Regions from separate parts of the Homo sapiens genome. Here region 1 is linked to region 2. Evidence: fine-mapped expression QTL. A gene starts in region 2. The other region holds a variant in brackets. All regions are shown on one strand. Distances are between the middles of the regions.

The links. PIP is the estimated chance that this variant, and not a neighbour inherited with it, causes the effect. A credible set is the group of variants that fine-mapping cannot tell apart.
Region 1: its variant is the best candidate, but not a certain one, in a credible set for the expression of FNIP1 in whole blood (TOPMed, PIP 0.65).

What each region holds. Positions count from the first base shown.
Region 1 is chr5:131,695,710-131,698,734 of GRCh38, forward strand. The region is part of intron 11 of FNIP1 (folliculin interacting protein 1); the gene reads right to left. Among named protein-coding and RNA genes, the nearest start is that of RAPGEF6, 62 kb to the left of the region's middle. The variant A/G (reference allele first, on the strand shown) is at 1,166.
Region 2 is chr5:131,795,982-131,798,481 of GRCh38, forward strand. It overlaps FNIP1 (folliculin interacting protein 1), which reads right to left and starts at 1,036. Exons shown (of 18, transcript NM_133372.3): 1 at 849-1,036. The coding sequence starts at 940. RefSeq lists silencers at 650-929, 980-1,239.

The DNA.
Region 1 (3,025 bases), 100 kb before region 2:
TATGCCAAACTAAAGAAAGCTTGCCTGGCCTACAGGCCTAAAGGTTCAAATGTTTATTAAAAAAACACAGTAGTCACATAAAATGTCTGCTGGCTGGCTGGAATTCCATCACCTACAATTTACCTGCTTTCAAAAACTGTGTTCAACATTGAGAAAACAGAAAACCACTTATCTTGAGCTTAATATGGGCTTCTTTTTCCTTAACTGTAGAACACTTACTGAAATATCAAATCAATGGTTAGGATATGTATCCTAGGCAGGCCTAAACCATTAACACTTGGTTTAAGCAACTTTGTATAATTTACCTCCTAAATCATAAAGAAGATACCTAAACATTTATATTAAAACAATACAACTCAAAGAAATTGTCATCTCAAGCAAATAATCCTGATGTTAAAATTATTTCCATCTTACATTCATAAAATCATCAAATTTTGTGTTTTCACAGAACTTCTAGAAACATACAAACAGGGCTATATAAATTGAGAAGTTATGAAGCCAAAGTAGACTGTACATCAGGAAGCTCATAAAAGTTGCTCTAAATTCCCTCTGCAAATGTATTTGATTTCTCCTACACTTCATCTATAAAAAACATGCATATAATGCTTTTATTTAATCATGAATGGCACCCAAAATGTGATAATCTCAACCTTTATGGTTTAAGTATGAAGAAATGAAATTATGAATAACTTTGCATATAATTCAGATATAAAGAGTGAAGATGCCAGTAAACTAAAAAAAACCCACACTGATTACCGTATCACTAGAGTTTCAGTGTCCCAAAATGAAAAAGCTTTAGAGATTGATTTCAAAACAATGTAAATATGCTTAACACTACTGAACTGTACACCTAAAAAATGATTTATAAAGCTAAATCTAACGTTATAGATATTTTTACAATAAAAATATTAAATTAAAATTATTTGTTAGCATGCTCCATATAATAAATGCCTAAAATTAATGTTAAAATAAAATTAATATATGGCAGAAATATCATCTCAAATACAGTTTTTGCCTGTACAAATTATTTCTAATACCAAAAAATAATATAAGGTGAAATTAAATTCTCTCTGTTTTTCTCTACATTTCCCCTAACCACTGAGTGTACTGTACAGAACAGTAAGATATATTTAACTAGCTTTTCATATCTTTTATCCTAAACATT[A/G]TGATGCATAAACCAAATGAATGAGTAGACATTATTCTCTTTCTCAATAATTGAGTCAAGTAAATGATTATTATACAATAGTCATAAACTTCTTCAATTTAAATCTACCACTCTTTAGCTCAGTTTTAAAAATGTTTTATATATTTTAAAAGTTTTAAAATTTTATATATATGTATGGCATGCCTACAATTTCATCATAGCAATCCTGCAGTTACACAAACTAAAACAGCCTTTCACTCCAAGATGTGATGGCCCATTTAAACAAACAACAATCTAGAAGATCCCTGCCCCAGTAAGAGACCACACAGTTGTCAATAAAAAAAATGTAGTTTTTCTAAAAGTAAGGTACATAGACTACTGGTAATAATAAAATTTACACAGTGGTACGTAGTGTACACAATGTGGTATACAAATACACATTTATTATTATTTTTGTGACGGGGTCTCACTATGTTGCCCAGGCTAGTCTCGAACTCCTGAGCTCAAGCAATCTAACCACCTTGGCCTCCCAAAGTACTGGGATTACAGGCACATGCCAACACGCCTGGCCCAGATACATATTTTTAATTTTAGTTACTATAAATTTATTTTTATAGCTAGTTTTATTATGGTAAAGCATATTGTTTCCCTATCTAGGGTAATGAAGTTTCATGTTGAAATAGATTTATTTAGGTATAAAAGATGGTCAAATTTAAAGAGAAACACTAAATTTAAAAAGTATACATGATATATAAATTTGGCAAAATTGTTAAGATATGATGTAAGTGACTTAAGTTGGGGAAGCACTGCTGTAGGTTATGTTTACCATAGGCCAGGCTCAGTGGCTCATGCCTGTAATCCCAGCACTTTGGGAGGCCAAGGTGGGCGGATCATTTGAGGTCAGGAGTTTGAGAACAGCCTGGCCAACATGGTGAAACCCCGTCTCTACTAAAAATAAAAAAAAAATTAGCCAAGCATGGTGGCACGCGTCTGTAATCCCAGCTACTGAGGAGGCTGAGGCAGGAGAATTGCTTGAACCCAGGAGGCAGAGGTTGCAGTGAGGCAAGATCACGCCACTGCACTCCAGCCTGGGTGACAGAGCAAGACTCCACCTCAAAAAAAAAAAAAAAAAAAAAGAAAGAAAAAGAAAAGAAAAGAATGGTGCCACTAATGTCAGGCATTCTGCTAAGTACCTTACACACACAATTTCATTTGATCCTTATAACAATCTATTAGATTATTACTAAATTGAATTTACCTATTTTATACTAGAAAACTAGGGGTCAAAAACGCTAATGCACTTGCCCAAGATCACCAGAGGTAGTAAATGACAGAGCCAGGGTTAAAATCCACGTCTGTCTGACAGATTCTAGAGTCTTAGTTTTCACTCCCTATGCTATTCTATCTCTCTAGTCTAAAGGAGGAAAGATTGAGAAAATGAAGTAGACCTAAACCGAACCTCTTGTCGAGGGAGACATATCAGTCACTTAGTATACTAATTCCCAACATAACATCATTTGTAGTATGTATGTCACATAGTTAGAAGACAGCTACAGCAGTTGTTGGGGCTTCAGGTACAAGCTTTGTTGAGCCAGAAAACCCTAGCGGAAGGACTATTCACTGTGCCATATCTAGAGGAAGGATCAAGCAACAAAGCCATTTAGAATATCAAGTGCATGTTCCTTATATCCATATATCCTTGTATCTCATGTATTCAAGAATATCTGATTACTACCACTGGTTAAATAACACTTAACAGTCCCTACATCTAGGATCCCAAGAGAGAACAAAGCATACTTTTGCTAGAACAAGGGTCTTTCCTGGTCATATTTGCTTGTCAAATGGCCCAATACTGAAAAACATACCACTGATGGCTCTCAA
Region 2 (2,500 bases):
AATTTTACCTTGAATTCAGGTTTATATCAAATCTTACAATTCTGAAAAGTTACTCTGCCAGCAACAGGTACTACAATGAAAAATTAACAAAGCCTGTAACACTACAAAATGCTCTACTAACATTTTCAATTTTTAAGACTCCTTTTCAGTAACAATTCGAGGAGGAAGAATCTACAGCCAATTCCAAGGCCAGATTTCATTCAATTTGGTCTTCCTTCGGCAGTAACCCTAAACTCAAGTTTCACATTTCTCCTTCGATAACATTAAGGTCGCTCGGTCCGGTTACTGCACACCTCCAATTTTAGCGTCCAAGAAACCTGAAAGAACGGCACGTTGCCTACTCGCTCCTCCAGCCTTCTCTCAACTCAGAAGCTTGGCCAAACGTGCCGCTCTCTCCACAACGCCAACGGAGCTGGAACGCAGCGCCCGGAGGACAACTGGTCACGGGGAGGAGGGGAGAACTTCGCGGCCCGGAGTACGGCGGCTGAGGTCCAATCCAGCCCGCGCCCAACTCTACTCGGTGCCAGGAAGGCGTGTGGACCCAAAGTCTCAGGCCGCGGTGCTAGGTCCGGAGGAGCAGAGTCGCGCGTGGCTGGGGGCAGGTCGTAAACAAACCGACGGGAGGAGGGGGAAGGGGCAACGGCGAGGCGGGTGGGGTAAAATAAAAGGTAGGACCTCGCTCCAACCCTTCGGCGCTAGCCCGCAGCCGGCTCCACCCCACCGAGGACCAGATGCTGCTCTCGGCGCGGCGCTTCCGCTCGGGTCGGAACACCGAAGGCCCCAACACCCCTGGAGCCCGGAGCCCACAAGGCCATCGGCTCCGCGACCCCCGCCCCACAGCGCCCTACCTGAACCCGCAATCTGGGTCCCGGGCGTCGCGGCCGGGCGCGCCCAGCCCGGTCCTCTTGCTGAAGAGCTTCTGGAACAGCGTAGGGGCCATGCTAGCCACGGCCAGGCAGGGGTCGCTCCGCTGGGCGCTTGCTAGGCCCCTGCTCCTACAGCCGCCCCGCCACCCCCATGGGCGCCTCAGTCATATGACAGAAATTAGTCACTTCAAACGGCCACGGCGCGCGGGGCGGGGCGCGAGGCAAGGCCGGCACTCATTGGCTGGAGGGGGGCCGCATCACGTGGCGGCGCGCGGAGCAAGGGGCAAGGTGGGGGCGTGGGGCGGAGCTGCCTCCCATAGGCTCACTGGCGGGTCCCGTCACGTGGCAGGGGCGGGGCGTGAGCCGAGAGGACAGGACTGGAAGGTGGCTAGGGATGTGTAGCGGGAGAAGGGTCAGTCTCGATCTTCCCCTGTGAAGCTGTCAGCGACCATCAGAGGGTACGCCGGGGTGGCGCGGGGACGATGCCAGGAGCCTTGGAGTGCAGAAGGCTTCGACTCCCCGCACCCACAGAGTTGCGTAGGGAACCACGGGCAACCGACTCTTCCTTGTCAGCCCCTCCCTAGCTTCTGCGGCTTCACACCTCCATTCCGCGCCGGGCAGAGTCTGGCGGCTCCTGGAGCACGGAAGGCCCACAAGCGTACCCGTGGGGCCGCGGCCAAGGCTGGACTTTGAGCCCAGGACCCCAGGACCGCCCTTAGAAGGCTGCGCCGGCCCGCGAGAGGTCTGGGATCTGGACAGCGCGGGGGCTGGCTCACAGGGACTGGTGAAGGAAACTGCCGGGACCCCTGCCACAGCCATGGCTCCCCGCAAAGACGACCTCGAGCAGGCACTGCGGGCAGTTTGTACTAGCGCCTAGAACCCTGACACCGGGAATTAGTCTCTTGGAAGAGCTAGCGATTGGAGGCTCAGGAGTTAGGCTGTTTCCTTGTTAACCAACAAAATCAGGTGAAACCAACGAAGTCAGGAAGCCTAAAGACATATATGTACAGATATCTAACCCTTTACGCTAATTATTTAGATTTTTAATAAATCTATCTTAATGTTTAGGTATGAAGACGGGAGGAACTGTGGAATTTTAGTCAAGTTACAGGGAAGAAACGCTTTCTAAAAAAAGAAAAACATTGCTCACATGTGACCTCACAGTCTTATTTAACCCATGGAACCAAAATATATCAGAGTTTGTATCAAACTAATCTTATAAATTTTCAGCAACCCCATCCATTCACTCACTCCCCCTCCAGGATGAGGAAGCTCGTACAATGGGATGTAATCCTCAGAGAAATTTAGGAAATAACTTGTATATGGTTGGAAGGCTGGATAAAAATACTTTGGGCAGGCGTGGTAGCTCACGTCTGTAATCGCAACACTGCAAGGCCGAGGCAGGCAGATCGCTTTAGCTCTGTAGTTCGAAACCAGCTTGGGCAACAGTAAGACCCTGTCTCTACAAAAAAAAAAAAAAAAAAAAAATTTTAATTAGCCAGGTGTGGCCGGGCGCTGTGGCTCACGCCTGTTATCCCAGCACTTTGGGAGGCCGAGGCGAGTGGATCACCTGAGGTCACGAGTTCAAGACCAGCCTGACCAGCATGGTGAAACCCCGTCTCCAAAAAATTAGC